2 separate regions of the Homo sapiens genome follow, and region 1 is linked to region 2. A link means that fine-mapping ties the variant in region 2 to the expression of a gene that starts in the linked region. Tissue or cell type: whole blood. Region 2 holds a variant in brackets; the other region holds the start of a gene. All regions are shown on one strand. Distances are between the middles of the regions.

The links. PIP is the estimated chance that this variant, and not a neighbour inherited with it, causes the effect.
Region 1: it holds the start of FOXN3, and the variant in region 2 is fine-mapped to the expression of FOXN3 in whole blood (GTEx, PIP 0.92).

What each region holds. Positions count from the first base shown.
Region 1 is chr14:89,413,143-89,421,247 of GRCh38, reverse strand. It overlaps FOXN3 (forkhead box N3), which reads left to right and starts at 4,015. Exons shown (of 6, transcript NM_005197.4): 1 at 4,015-4,377. FOXN3-AS1 (FOXN3 antisense RNA 1) reads right to left here and starts at 3,894. Exons shown (of 2, transcript NR_036500.1): 1 at 3,452-3,894; 2 at 1,455-2,088. RefSeq lists silencers at 3,634-3,923, 3,964-4,173 and enhancers at 3,869-4,163, 3,788-4,320, 4,321-4,854, 4,869-5,163.
Region 2 is chr14:88,912,508-88,920,612 of GRCh38, reverse strand. No RefSeq gene overlaps it. Among named protein-coding and RNA genes, the nearest start is that of TRA-AGC15-1, 63 kb to the left of the region's middle. The variant G/A (reference allele first, on the strand shown) is at 4,300.

The DNA of each region.
Region 1 (8,105 bases), 500 kb before region 2:
AACCTGGGAGGTGGAGGTTGCAGTGAGCCGAGATTGTGCCATTGCACTCCAGCCTGGGCAACAAGAGCAAAACTCTTGTCTCAAAAAAAAAAAAAAAAAAAAGAAAGAAAGAAAATATGGACAAGTATGAAAGAAGCACACAAAAAAGAAGTATCCCATAACTCTAACATTCAGAAGGAACCACTATTTTAGCCTTTTTTCCCCAATTTTTTTTTTTCTTAAACAGTCTTCATTCTGTTTTGTATGAATTACTGCAATGATTTCTGAGTTGTTCTGCTGGTTTTTGATCTTCCAGTTTCTCTCTTCCTCTCCCGAAATTCATCTTGGATCCACCATCCCCATTTATCTTTTTTTTTTTTTTTAATTCGTATCTCTGATAATACAACTTCTGGGCTCAAAAATATTCAGTGAGCCACCTTTGCCCTCTGACCTTAACACATATAAATTGCTCACCCTGCTATTCAAGGAGTTTGGTGATATGATGCTTGCACTCTTACCCACTAATCTGTGTGCTCTTTAGGGACAAAGACCGTCTATCTCTGGCAGCTAACACAATGCCATGCACTTGGTAGGCACTCAGCAAATATTTGTTCAGTGAATGAGTTCCTCTTCTACTACAATCAAGTCAGATTTGGTAATTCTGTGCCATCGATTTCTCTTGGAACAGCAGTTTGTAAGCAAAATCATCCCCTTGTGCTTTCTCAAAATACACATATCCAGGCACCATCCTAGAAGACTCTAGTTGGTTAGGTGTGGCTTCTGGATGGTTCTGATGGGCATCCCCAGGTGAGAAGCTCAGGTCAAGAACACCCCTTCCCCATTTCCACAGGTTAAACAGCAACCCACCCTTATTAGATATCCCACTTCCAAAGTCATCTCCCCTCCCTTCCCCAGATGTTTCACCATGTCCCTTGTCTCAGCTGTTAGCAGTAGGGAGTGGTGGGGGGCCATGCGCGTAGGGGAGTCATGTGACTCAGGCTAGGCCAATCGCACTATTTCCCTGAGAAGTTAAACTATGTCATGGAAGGCTTGAGGCAGTTCAAAGGTGGTGGGTGCTAAAAGTCAGAAGGCCTCAGGGCTTGCTGCTGGCAGCCCTGTGTGGTTATCATTGAGCAGAGGAAGCCAACCTGCAGGGTAGAGAGTGGAGTCACCTATAGAGGGAAGCACGAAAGGAATATGGTTCTGTGCAGGCCAGCGGTGTGTGCCTGCCCAGCCTCCCCGTATTTCCTCTCATATATCCTTTGTACTGGAGTCTCTTTGCAGGATCCCTCCCCAGAAGACTGTCTTTCCAGGCCTGCCTCGGACTCTTCCTATTTTGGGCAGTCTCTCAGGTCTTCCCGACTGCACCTGCTCACCTACTCAGTTGTACTGCCTCAAGGGGGGCAAGGTATATCGGGTTTTATACTTAACTATTCCATAAATAGCCATGCTGCTCTAATAACCAATACAGTGTGTGTGTAGGGGGATTAAAGTTCTTGACCAGAGAAACATTTAGCAAAAGAATGCACAAAACATCAAGGGAGGGGCGCTCTTCTCCTTGGAGGAGGAACTGAGGTCCCACGCTGATGGGGGCAGATAAGCCTGGAATTGAGGACTTCCAGCTCCCAGATACTTATGTACTCTCCAGCCCATGCTCAGATGGGGCTGCAGAATGGTCCCATCAAGTCCTCTATCAGGAAATAAGTGTTTCTCAAAGTGATTTCTAGGGCACATATACAATTCGGCTGTTAAATGTGTTTGTAAAACAGTGTAGACAAGACATTAGACAATGCAGCTTGCTTATTTGTGACTTCTCAGGACCTAAGACGCAAGGGTCCTTTCTGAAAGTTCATGGGGAATTGTGAATGGGGTTGTTCCCAAACAAATTTGGCCCCTGCACCCTAGGTCAGGAAGCAAGTCCCAGAGCTGAGGTTCTATGGAATTAGAAGGTGGAAAAGGCCACATTAAGCCCTCCTTTGGCTTTCAGCATTTTTTCCCCCATTTCAGATAGACCGACAGGCAGACATGTGTCCCCTGCTGTCCACATCAGGCAGGGCTGGTCCACCACTTCCTCTTCAGGGTGACACCTTCTCACATCTCTTGCTGCAACTGTAATGGGAGAGAGAAATTAAGAAATATGTTTGAGAATGCAAGAAGCAAAAACACACATGGAATGACATATTCCATGTACAATCACCTTTGGCTCACATCCCCTCTTTTTGAACTCTGAGAAAGCAGGAGGGGACTGGGGCCGGTGAAAATAAGGTGCCACCTCTACTTAATATAAAGAGATTTCTGGCTATTGTGTGAGTGTAGCTGGGGGACTTGGGGGTGGGGTTGGGGGCTGGGGATGGAAGAGGAAGATGTAAGGGGGCGACTTCGTCCTCTCTAGGCCAGCAAGGGCTTGGACAAAGGTCTCTGGCCTTGGTTCCTCTGGCGGAGAATAAGCACCCTCAACTGACGCGCTGATGGAGGGGCAGGACCTGCATTAGCCGGAGCTACAGGAAAGCAGGGTACACATTGTCTCATCCTGGCTTTGTTACCACTTCTAACCCTGAGAATCTCTGGCGTGAGACTTCAAAGATCATCTGACTTGTCTCTGCCACCTTGTGCCTTTTGCTTAGTGACTTTGGGTAGGTCGCATCAAGTGCTCAGTAATCAAAGGGGTGGGGCTGGATGACCTCAGGCTACCCCTGGGCTTCCACCTCCTAATTGTCTCCAGATGGGGAGATGCCACACAACTTGGAAGTAGTAAGGTCTCCGGTGAGTCTGAAAGGCACATCTTTGCTGAAGACTTGTCACCTGCCCTCTTGAACCTTTGTTAGGGGGAATGACTCTCAGATTGGGGGGGGGGGGTCTATTTTTTGAGACAGAAAAAATTTTCAGAAGCCTAACTGGTGTTTCCCTTAGTCCCTCCTTTTGGCTAGGTTTAAAAGTACTGCATGCTAGAAAGCTTTCTCCAGGTCTACTCGCTGTTTTTTTCTGTAGTTTTCAGACCGCTCACGATGTCCTGTCCACTGGCTCAGGAGGGGGTGGCAGGAAGGGTGCCCTGGGCTTCTCCTCTGTAGAGGAACCAACCAATTTGGCTACCTGGGAGTAATGTGCAATCACATTTTTATTTTTGTCACCACCAGGGTGTCCTGTTGGACTCTCTCCTCTCATCCTCTCCCAAGGCGGCTGGTTGGTGTGGCTTTAGCAGTGGGTGCTATTATTTGGAGGTGCCTAGAGACTTAGAGTGGTGGCTGCACCATTTCGCTGGGTGGCTTGCGAATTGTCAGTCTGGTTCCTGAGAGCTCAAACTGAGATGGAAATGAGACCTGTTTTCTCTCTAGGCCGGCCGGGGCGTTCCGCACAACCCACTTGAGAGGCCCCACCGGCGTGGCCTTTAGGACGGTGCCTCTTGTCTTGTAATGGCCACCGGCCCTCCCTCGGGAGACACGCGGCCACCTGGGTGGGACGCTGCGGTGCTTACCTCCGGGACACGAGGTGGTCGCTGGGAGAGGGCTCGGAAGGCCCTGGGGGTCCTATCAGGACGCAGCACTGGGGAGACGTGGAATCTCCTCTTCTCACCCCCACAAGCCTCGCCCGCATCGTAATTCTTTTTATTTTTACTTTCGAGCCATGTAAGGCATGCAGATGGGGTAGGAGCGTTCCCGCGACACGTTGCCAGCAGCGCAGCGCCGGCCCGCTCGTGTGGCCGGAGCCCGGGGAGGGGACAGGGCACGCGCCGCCTGACCCACCTGCCCCACCGCCCACGGTCGCGGCCGCCCTGGGTCGCGGGACCCGCGCCGGTCACCCCCGCCCCGCGGGGCCCAAGAGGCGAGGCCGCGCGGCCCAGCCCCGGCCTCCGCCCTGGCTGAGTGCTGGGGCGCGCGAGGGGCGCGGGCAGGGTCCGCCCCGGCGGGTCAGTGCCCCGCGCCCCAGGCCGCTGGCGGCCAGGCCCACGTTTTCCCTTTCTCCGGCTCCCTCCGCCCTCCGCTCTGTCCCTCCCTCCGCCCTCCTCCCTCCCCGCGCTTCCCCTCCTCCTGCCTGGTCATGTGTCGCCTTTTTTTGTTTGCAGTGGAAACAATTTCTCGCCGCTCGGCGCGCCCCGGCCCGACGCGCCGCGGCGGAGGCGAGCGGGAGGCGGGACGGGGCGGGGAGAGCGGCGGGGCCGGCGGGAGGACGCGCGGCGCGCCCGGCGGACGCCGCAGGTCCCATGCCGCGCCGCGACCCCCGCGCCCCTGCCGCCCGCGCCCGCGGCCGCCCCCCGCCGCCCGCCGCCCCGGGCTCGCCGCGCCGCGCCCGCGCGTCCTTAGCGGGGCCACCGAGCGATGCCCGCCGGGCGCCCGCGAAAGTTTGTCGGCTCCTGCTGAAGGGCAGCGGCGCCCCCGCACCCCCGTGCCCCGCTCCGGCCAGGTGAGTTTGCACCCCGCTCCTGCCGGCTCCCGCGTGGGCTCGGGGGGCACCCGGGGCGGGAGGCGCGTCCGAGACGGTCCTGGAGACTACCTCGCCGCTCTGGGAAGACGAGGGACCCCGCAGGTCCTGGGGGGAGGGTCGGGTGTGGACCCCGGGAGCCCCCGAGCCGGGAAGTTGCCGGGTCCGAAGAGTTTCCTGCCCCGACGTGCGTGCTGCTTCCCGGTGCCTCGGTTTCCGAAAAGACGCCCGCAAGGAACAGAGTTGGTATTGTCTGCGGAGGACGGGGTCCCCGCCGTTCCGGGCCGGGGAGGGGGTTCCGATCAAGTGGAGACCCCAAGATGAGAAACAGGCTCCTAACAAAGATCACCCCCCGGCCAAACTGTGCAGACTTGGCACAGGCAACGAACGTCTCCGGAGACCCCCGAGGCCCGACCCCCCTCATCCCGGCCCTGTTTGAAACCCTCCTTGGGCCCTGGATAAGTTGGGGGACGGCGGGCTTTTATTGATTTGTTTTCGAGGCTCGCCGCGGTGCGGCCAATAAAAGGTTTATGACATCTGACCGGCAGTGAAGGTATGCGAGCTCCCAATTGCCCTGTATATGGGGATAAGAGCAGTTTCCCCCGTTGCCCGGCAACGCCGCTGATTGACGCGGGGTGCAGCCAATCGCCACTCCCGCAGGTCCCCTTGAAATGTTTTTGACAAGTACAGTAGACGAGAGTGAAGCGCGTGCGTGCGCGCGCGCGCGTGCTGGGTGGGCGGGGGTGACCCGGCCCCCCAAACTCGCTACTGCTCGGCTCTGGGAAGATTTCTTAACTTTTTAAAGTTCGCATCGAACATCTGTTCAGAGCTGGGCCAGTAATGTCTTTGTCAGTTATTTGGAGACCTTCTGTTTACTAGGCGAGAAACTAAGCTTTCTTGCCGCATTTTCTCCGTTAAAAAATAAAGAGGGTAACAAAACACAGCAAGTCATAAAAAAAACAAAAGAGGGTGTGTGTGTGTGTGTGTGTGTGTGTGTGTGTGTGTAGAGAAAAGTTGTAAGGAGGTCACCAGTGAATAACTATTTGCGTATCTGGTGGAGCAGCCTTGTTGGCAGCAGATTAAAAATGTTTGCTTAACTGCAACTCACATGATCCAGATTCTTTTTTTTTCCCTCTGAAACAGGAGGAAAAAAAGATTTGGCGAAATCTGTAGTTAGAGTATAATAATGGAAAACTCCTCAGCTGTGGTTTCTGGGAACTGTTTTTTTTTTTTTTTTTTTTTTTTTTTGGTTATTGTTGTTTTGTTTTGTTTTTACATGGAACTGTAGTGATCAGCAGCTCTTCACCCTGTTGGTATAAAATGCGGGATTTATAGGGATGCAGTGAGTGGTTGGAGAGTACGGGGTCCCAGCACAAAACGCACACATGATCCAAGGGTACTGAACTCCCATAACCCTCTCTTCGTGACAATGCCACTTTTTCTCCTAAAACCATATTGCTGGCAGTGTTTGTTTAAAACAAAAGGAAACATGGAGAATAGCGTGTTAGTTCCTCTGGGAAGCTACTGACAAATAAGCAAATTAAAAAGAAAGAGAGCAGCATGTTGTCATAGCAACAGTGCAATTAAATTACTTTACTGTCAGCCATGATATAATTTTCCTGTTTGGAAGCTCAGGAGACATAAAACTTTCATTTAGAGCTAAAGTTGACTTCAGTGGCTGGGTAGTTCTGTTTTATACTCTACTGTGGGCATATGCTGGTCATCAGAAAATTTTCTGATGGGATCTGAGGAAACTTTAAGAAAGACAAGTGGTGCTATAATTCGTTCATAAAGAAGTTAAAAGCAGGATCAGACCAGACTCTGTTGTATCCCCAAGCCAAAAGATGCTAGCTTGTTTTTTGTCTGAAATGTGTCAGGGTAACCTCCTTATTTGACAGAAAGAAATATTCCCTGTGAGTGAACCCAAGACGTCTGGAGCATCCTGCCTGGTCTGTACTGCAATGCCTCATGAAGTTTTCTCTCCTTAAGAGTTGGGCATCTTGGCCAGGCGCGGTGGCTCACGCCTGTAATCCCAGCACTTTGGGAGGCCGAGGCGGGTGGATCACGAGATCAAGAGATTGAGACCATCCTGGCCAACATGGTGAAACCCCGTCTTACTAAAAATACAAAAATTAACCAGTCATGGTGGCACACGCCTGTAGTCCCAGCTACTTGGGAGGCTGAGGCAGGAGAATCTCTTGAACCTGGGAGGCAGGGGTTGCAGTGAGCGGATTTTGCACCACTGCACTCCAGCCTGGGCAACAGAGTGAGACTCTGTCTCAAAAAAAAAAAAAAAAAAAACCGGTTGGGCCTCTCACCACAGCTCCCCCTTAGGCCTTGCGTCTAGCAGGTTCTACCTTTTGGAAGAGGGAAGGTACTATAATTCACAGGCACCCTTGGCTGGTAGGTTAGTGCCCAGGATTATGCCTTCTAGAATTCCCTAATAGAGCTTCCACAGCTGAAGTGGCAGTTGTTTTAGATGTGGTGTTAATGAACATTTAAGAGACATAGAAGGGTCATGTCTTTGCCTTTTTAATTTTATTTATTTATTTTTTTGAGACAGGGTCTCCCTCTGTTGCCCAGGCTGGAGTGCAGTGAGCCTCAACCTCCTGGGCTCAAGTGATCCTCCCACCTCAGCCTCCCAAGTAGCTGGGACTACAGGCACACACCACCACACCTAGCGAATTTTTGTATTTTTTTGGTGGAGATGGCGTTTTACCATGTTGGCCAGGCTGGTCTTGAACTTCTGAGCTCAAGGGATCCTCCTGCCTCAGACTCCCAAAGTGATGGGATTATAAGCATGAGCTACCATGCCTGGCCTATGTCTTTGCTTTTAAATATGTTCATTCATCCCTCCTCCTTCTTCTCCTCCTCCTCCTCCTCCTCCATCCCTCCTCCTCCTCCCCCTTCTCCTCCCCCTCCCGCTTCTTCCTCCTTCCTCCCCTTGCCCTGCCCTGCCCTGCCCTTCCCTGCCCTTCCCTTCTCTTGCCCTCCCTTCCCCTCCTCTCCTCTCCCCTCCCTTCCCTTCCTTTTCCCTTCTCTTTCCCTTCCTTTCTTCTTTCCCTTCCCTTCTTTTTTTCCTTCTTCTTTCCCTTCTTCCTTCCCTTCCCTTCTCCCTTCCCTTCCCCCTTCTCTTCCGTTCCCTTCCCCCTTCTCTTCCGTTCCCTTCCCCCTTCTCTTCCATTCCCTTCCCTTCTTCCTTACCTTCTTCAAAACTTTTGAGACAGCATCTCACTCTGTTGCTCAGGCTGGAGTGCAGTGGTACAGTCATGGCTCACTGCAGCCTCAGCTTCTTGGGTTCAAGCAGTCCTCCCACTCAGCCTCCCAAGTAGCTGGGACTACAGGCACATGCCACCATGCCCGGCTAATTTTTGTATTTTTCATAGAGATGGGGTTTCGCCATGTTGCCCAGGCTGGTCTCAAACCCCTGGGCTCAAGTGATCCTCCTGCCTCAGCCTCCCAAAGTGGTGAGATTATAGGCGTGAGCCACCATGCCCAGCCTGTTCATTTGTTTTCTAGGTAGATGCTTGATTTTCTTACTGTTCGTTTGTGGGGGGAATTAAAACCTAACAGTTTTAAACCAAGCATATTGTTTTAGCGCTACGGAGAGTGGGAGACCTTTTTGGTTATCTTTACTGTTCTTTCTGTGTTACGTTGGGTGCTGGAGGGTTGAACATGCTTTGTGTCTGTAGGGGTCATTCTGTTTGTAA
Region 2 (8,105 bases):
TATGAATTGATGAGGGGGGAGATTAAAAATGGAGTTGGAAGGGAGTAGTTAAGAGGCAATTGCAGAATTCCAGGTAAAATGATAAAGACCTGAATTATTACCCTAGCAGGAGAAATGATGTAATGGAGTTATTGAAAAACTAGAATTGACCAGATTTTCAACATCATTAGCAATTTTCATGTGTTTATTTAACACTTGTATATCCTCTTCTCTGAAATGACTCTTCATGTATTTTTGCCCACTATGTACTTGGATTGTTTATTTTTTTAACTATTAGAGTTTGATAACTCTTCATATATTTTAGATACTAGTCCTTTGCTGTACGTGTAGTTTGCAAATATTTTTCCACTCAGTAGGTTTATTTCATCATCTTAACTGTGTGTTTCAGTGACCTAAAGTTTTTCAAATATTGATTAAAGTTTTCACATAAATTTTTTTTATTTCAACCATTTTACGTGGACCATTCCATGGCATTAATTATGTTTACAATGTCATTAAACCATAACCACAATATGCAATTTCTTTCATCATTCCAAATACAAACTCTGCATCTATTAAGCAATAACCCACATTTCCACCACCACCCCAGTACCTGCTCCCTTCAATCTATTGTCTGTCTCAATTCATTTTTCCTATTCTAAATATTCTGTAGAAGTAGAATCATACATATTTGTCCTGTTAATTTCTGTCATAATTCACTTGCAATGTGTTTAAGGTTTGTCAATGTTGCAACTTGTATCAAACTTTCATTCCTTTTTATGGTGGAATAAAGTTTTATTGTTTGTATACCCTTAAAAAACAAGACCAGATTTGATGATCAATTCAATGTGAAGGGTGAGAGAGAGGAATGAGTCAAGAATGCAAGCATGCCTTCAGAGATGAACCAAGAGTGACTGCAATGGCAGGAATGCCAGCTCAGGTGCCCGGGTGGAAGAGTAACTGCTCTCCCTGCCGGAGAACAGAGGTCACAGGGTAGCTGGGCCAGGAGGAGGTGAGGCCTGTTATTTCACGGCTTTGTTGATAACTCTGAATCTATTATTTTGCTTTTCCTTCTGTCTTTGTTTACCTATTTGTTCCTTTGCTTGTTCTTTCTCACTGCTGGTTTGCAAACCAGGAGTACATACACCTAACTTGAACTGATATCATTATTTTTGGTAACAAGTCCTTTCACTTGAGAGTTTTAATTCTACAAGGGTAGGGCCAATGAAATAGTGTAGGCTGGCTAGGAACAGGTTGCTCTGGGGAAGAAAGTGTCCCCAGTGAAAACTTGGTGACTGAACAGCACATACTCATTGCAGACTTCTTAACGTTGCTTGAGGGATTCATTTGCCATAATTAAATACATGTATTAATTTATTCAATATGAATCTGGAGCTTGCTATAAACAGATGTCTCCACGGAAGGGTGCTGGAGAGCAAACCAGGTCTTATAATTTGTAGTCTGAGTCCTTGTGACCTTTTTTTGATTTGGGGTTCATGTTGAAAGCCACCGTTCATTTCTCTGTCATTGTATCTCATCTTCAGTCATTATAGAGGGAACCACATCCTCACCCCTGGGACTTCTCGAAGGGAATTGTTCATTAAGCCAGTCAAATTTAATCTCCATATTGTTAAAAATCTCCCCAACCCTTTTATATGATGCAATAACAAACAAATGAAAAGCAGCTAGAACTTGTATGCATATAAGTAGATCCCGAACAACAAAAGGACCAGTTTTTCTGGCTAAAAGCAAGCCTGCCATTACATTGAGGCCATGCCTTCATTCCTACTCACTCAATTATACTTGAGGAAGAGATGGGAAGCTAATTCTCTACCTGCCCCACAAAACTATTCCATTTCACAACCCATCTACACTATCACTTACATCGATAGCTCATGTTGCTGGCAGTAAAGTGCTGTGATCTTATTCCATTTTAAAACAGTCCTGGAATAAATGGTGCTGAAATTGCTCAGATCTAGCCTGCTATCTTCTACCCCAGCATACAGAGAGAGAACAGAACAGATGAAATGCTGGGCTTGCCGACCCCGTCTCTCCTTTCCACTTTGTGGTCTTAAGAAAATCACATAATCAGAAGTTCAATTACCTTATCTATAAAATAGGAAGAAAAGGCCGGGTGCAGTGGCTCACGCCTGTAATCTCAGCATTTTGGGAGGCCAAGGCGGGTGGATCACTTGAGGTCAGGAGTACGAGATCAGCCTGGCCAAAATGGCGAAACCCCATCTCTACTAAAAATACAAAAAAAAAAAAAAAAAAAATTAGCTGGGCGTGGTGGCAAGTGCCTGTAATCCCAGCTAATCAGAAGGCTGAGGCAGGAGAACCTCTTGAACCCAGGAGGTGGAGGTTGCAGCGAGCCGAGATCACACCATTGCACTCCAGCCTGGGCAACAAGAGCAAAACTCTGTTTCAAAATAAATAAATAAAAATAAAATAAATAAAACGGGAAGAATGATATCCTCAATGTAGATTTTTTAATGAGGATCACACAAAATAAAGTAGGTGAAAGTGCCGACGTTTGTTAGAGCAGAGCATTTCAGACTTTGACGTGTGTATGACCGTGTGGGAATGGGATACAGGTTCTGGCTTTGTAGCTCAGTGGTGGAGCCTGAAATTCTGAGTTTCTAACAAGCTCCCAGATGATGCCAATGCTGCTAGGCCATAGACCATAACTGGAGTAGCAAAGTGATTACTGTGTTGTCCAGTGTGGTAGATGCTGGCCACAGGTGTTCATTTAAGTTTAAATTAATTAAAATGAAATAAAATTTAAAATCCAGTTTGTTAATTGCAGTAGCCAAATGTTTAGATGTCCACAGCCACCTGTGACTAGTGGCTACCACTACATTGGACAACACAGACATAGAACATTTCCACCACTGCAGAAAGTTCCACTGGACTGTGCTGTGTTAAGCACCATGGTGATGTTTAAAAAGCTATTCGATAACATTCAAACAGTGTTTACTGATCGTCTTTGTATTTGTCAGGGTTCTCTAGAGGCACAGAACTAATAGGATAGATGTATATATGAAGGGGAGTTTATTAGGAGAATTGGCTCACATGATCACAAGGTGAAGTCCCACAATAGGCCATCTGCAAGCTGAGAAGCCAGGAAGCCAGTCCGAGTCCCAAAACCTCAAAAGTAGGGAAGCAGACTGTGCAGCCTTCAGTCTGTGGCCTAAGACCCAAGAGGCCCTGGCAAACCACTGGTATAAGTCTAAGAGTTCAAAGCTGAAGAACCTGGAGTCTGATGTTCAAGGGCAGGAAACATCCATCACGGGAGAAAGACGGAGGCCAGAAGACTAAACTAGTCTAGTCTTTCCCTGATTCCTGCCTGCTTTTATTATGGCCGCACTGGCAGCTGATTAAATTATGCCCACCAGGATTGAGGGTCAGTCTGCCCTTCCCAGTTCACTGACTCAAATGTTAATCTCCTTTGGCAACACCCTCACAGACACATCCAGGAACAGTACTTTGTATTCTTCAATGAAGTTGACACTCAAGATTAGCTATCACAATCTTCCACGTATATTTCTAGACACTAATGAGATAGCAGTGAGCAAAACAAAGTCCTTGCCCTTGTGGAGCTTACCTTCTGATTTGAATAAATAAGAGATTGTAACTAAATGGTCTTGGATACAGCAGCTCTCTCATAAGCAGACTCAGCTTTATCCTACAACAGCCTCACAGCAGAATTCATCACTTCCTCACAGCCCCTGAAGCAAAAGCCACTCAAATAACCATAAGTGAAGAATTAGTCTGAAGATTTTACTGAAGATTTCTTAAAGGATGCTACAGGGAAGTCTACATTGCATAGCCCAGAATACTGTTTAATATTGTTTTTCTTTTTCCTTTTAAAATTACACAATTAATACATGTCAAATAGGATTTTTACCTGCTTTCCACTCCCAACCCCCAAAACGCCCTGTCTGATACTTCTTCCTAAGTCTCTCTGTTTTGGGTCACCGAAGAGATCTTCCCAATATTCTCATTTTGCAGAGAAATTAATCTCTGCCCAGTTCCTCAAGCCTTGCATGCCTGTTACTTCTATACCTTTTACTTCTTTGAGTTCTACCGCAGCTTTCATTCGAGATGAAGTACACCTGCCCTCACGTTGTTGACCATGAAACATTGGTGGTAATCACCAGCTCACAAAAGCCAGTGGTGCTTTTATCTTCCCAACTTTGTGTTCAGTGACCTCATATTAGAAAGCTTGAAATTCATCTGAGTGGTAGTATTTACACCATAGAAATTGGCATATGCTACAAACTAGGTCTTTTTTTTTCCCCAGAGAACCAACTGTTAAAC[G/A]TGTGGTAGCACACCACTGGGTGTAGAGAACATGTAGAGATGACATGGTGCCCAGTGTCATTTAGAGCTTATTGAGAGGACTCTGTTTCATTTTGTAGCCCCAGATGCTTCTTCCTCTTTGTTTTCTACTGTGGGGTCTGAAAGCTGTCTCACTCCTCTGAGGGGGACCCTCCCTTGCAAGACAGAGGAGAAGCAGCCACTCTGGCAAGTCAAAGAACATCATCCCATGGCTTAAAACAGAGTGGTCCTCTGGGCCGGGAGAGACGTCAGGGAGAAAATAAGAATGAACCACATCCCTCCACTCCATTCATTGATAGGAAACCTACAGACAGCACCTGATACTCACCTGCCTTCAGGTGTGCTTTCTTTGGTTTATCGTGAAACCAGCCAAATTCATTTTTCTCTGTAACTGTTAAATTGAAAATCAGTGACATAAAGAGGTGATAAGGGAAAACTGGGTTTGACTTCCGGTATCTCACAACTGCCCTTAGTGGACTGCAACCACCGTGGTAACACTCTAGAAGTATGGAACAAAAACTAGTTTACAGTCACCTCTGCTCAGAGCGGGGGTGGGGGAGATGGAGGAGTTAAATGCAAGGATGTGAAAATCATTTGGGGGATTTGCAAGAAGCTCTGGCTAAGGCAGCCCCCCTGGGCAAGCTTCTCTTCAGCTCCTATTTTCTGTTGGCTGTGGCTTGAGCCAGCTCTACACTATAGCTGTGGGCACTGCCTCATAAGAGACTCTTGCCTCCCTCCTATCATTTTTGCACTTCTCTTTTCTGTTTCTTCTCAAGTCTGACTTGACATTCAGTGAAGCCTCTTTTGCTTTGGATGAAAATCCTAGAAGTGGTGAGGGAGGTGGGGTAGGAGAGGCTCCCACTATGATTTAGCCTGGGTTTCAACAGGGCCCCAGGCTCACCCCACTCACGGCAACACTGGATGTTAGGTTCTGCCCTAACCCTTCCACCCCTGCACCCTAAGGCTTTAGTGGAGAGGCCACAATGAGAGAGGCTGCTGCCACCAGCGGAGAAGATAGGAAAAGAAGGAAAAGAAGCATTTGTGTGAGGAAAGCCTCCGTGGATGGTACACCTGTCCCCTTGGCCCTTGACTCATTCTTCTGTTCCTTAATGCCATCTGGATCAGCTGTGGGCTCTCTTGCCTAATTATAGTTCATAAGGGCCAATTTTGTAATGACTTGGCACCTAAATTGAGCCTGCACCTTTTTCACACTGCAGTTTGGGCTTTAATAGCTTGATTAAGTAGGACAGCCAACTCGGGTAAATCACCTTGCTTGTAAAGAGGTGTTTAGGGCTATATGAGGGAAAAAATGCCTTTACAAGGTGGACGGCTTAAAGGTAGATCCAAATGCAGCATCTTGACTAGAAATTTCAAGCCAGATAGGCTGGGTTTAAAAATATGGGGCAGGGGTCCAAGCTGCAGCCCATGTTTTGTGGTATCTCCTCCCTTCTCCTCACTCTCAGCTGATGGCCTTATTTCACTGGAACAATAGGAGCAATTAGAAGAATGTCACCTGCCCCCAAGGAGACATCTTTCCGGGTAGCAGTGCCTATATCTTTATACTCTTGTCTTTCATCCTGTTGCTATGGGCAGAGCTGTCTACACTTCTATTTAAAACCAAACCCAACACTGGAAGCCTTCCCCTCTTACCTTCTGCGATAACCCTCTCTTGCTTGCATCGCCAAGTTTCTCCCCTGCAAGACAGTTCTCTGAGTGACCTTGAACCAACCCAATTTTCCCTCCCCCTTTTTTGCATGTAGTCTCAAGAATAAGAGTAGAATGTGCTGGAATGCAATATCCTGAGAAAAAGCTCAGGCTTTATTCCTCTCTCCCCCAGAAGGAAGATGTCCTTCAAAGCTTTGCCCAGGGAGTCCTGTTTCTCCCAGGGTATGAAACCCAGGGCAGGCTGCCTTTTGAGGGTCCTCAGCTGTGATACAAAATGGGACACAGGCAGTCAAGACCACGTTCACCTTGGGCAGTTTTCTTGAGCCTTGAGGGATGAGCTCACAATGGATCCAAGACTTCTGTCCCTTACTGTTATCTATAAAAAATAAACCTGCTTTACATAACTTGTGTGTATGTTCTGTCTCACTGGACTCAGACAAATAGATAACCAGTATGAGGTGGACTTAACAGTAGCCTAGGATGTCTCGGGCATAAGTACATGGACTCCTGGTTTCTGGTGCTTGGCATAATGACATTCTCTGCAATTCTATACTCAGTGGGAGTCTCTCTTGAGATTGATGATTAGTGAGCCTGCTCCATGCCCCCTCTCTGCTGGATCATTTCTATCAGCATATAAACACGTCGTACACTGCCTATCTAGAAACAAAACACAATCAAAACACAGAAATAAAAACCTCCTTTGACCTAACGTCTACAATCCAGGTGCTGCCAATCCCTCCCTCCCTTTTACAGAAAAATACCTTGAAAGGGTTGGTTATCTAGTTTTACGGGCTCAACATCTCTCTTTTTGGTTTTTCTTGATCCTCTCACATAAGCTTTTCATGCCTAACACTCCAGTGAAAGAGCTCTATATCCAATGGTCAAATTTAAGTTCTCCTCGAACCCTATCAACAGATTCATGTGACCCTGTTGAGCACCTTCCTTCTTGAAACACACTTCACTGGACCTCCAGCCCTCCACTTCCTCTCTTGGTTTTCTTCTTACTCACTGGCCACTCCTCAGCCTGTTTTACATACTCCTCAGCCTCTTTTGCTGCATCCTCCTGATTTTCCCCATCTCCAAAGTTTGGAGGATACAGTCATTGGACAGCTTATCTTCTCTATCCGCATTTCTTTCCTAGGTAATCTCATCCAGCCTAATGGCTTTAAATACTATCTTGTCATTGACAATTCCCAAATGTGCCAGCCTGGACATGTCTTCCGAATCTCAGCTCTTGAATCCAGCTGCCTCCTGTACAGCTCCATTGGGATAGGAATTTCAAGCTGAATTTTAACTCCTTTTTTTTTTTGAGACAGGGAAGTCTCACTCTGTTGCACAGGCTGGAGTGCAGTGGCACAATCACTGTAGCCTTGACCTCCCACACTCAAGCAATCCTCCCACCCCAGCCTCCTGAGTAGCTGGGACTACAGGTGCATACCACCACACCCAGCTAATTTTATTATTTTTTGTAGAGCCAGGACCTCACTATATTCCCTAGGCTGGTCTTGAACTCCTATCCTCAAGTAATCCTCCCACCTTGGCTTCCAAAGTGCTGGGATTACAGGCATGAGCCACTGAACTGAGTGAATTTTAACTCTTGATTTCTCCCTCCATCAACTCTTTCAGTTGCTCAGGCCAAAAAGCCATGGAGGCATCTGTAACTCCTTTCTTTCTCACACATTCGACAGCCAATCCATCAGCAAATCCCTGGCAGCTCCACTTCTAAAACATACCCAGAATCTGCTCACACCTCCCTGACTCCACTGCCACCACCCAAGCCAAGCCACCATCGTCTCTCACCTGGATCATTGTGGTCCACTCTATGTTTCTACCCTTGACATCCCAACGGCCAGAATGATGCTTTAAAAATCAGGTCAGGTATGTCATTCCTTTTCTCAGAACCCTCACATCCTTTTCTACCTCTCCCAGATAGAATCTAAAGCCCTTACCACCACCTGCAAAGCTCTACACAACCTGGATCCTGAGGCCTCTGGCCTCACCTCACTGCACCCTGTCCCTGCTGCCTAACTCAGTTTAGGCTGCCAGAACAAAATGCCACATACTGGGTGGGGGGAGGGGGCTTAACTCATAAACATTTATTTAGTCACAGTTCTAGAGGCTGG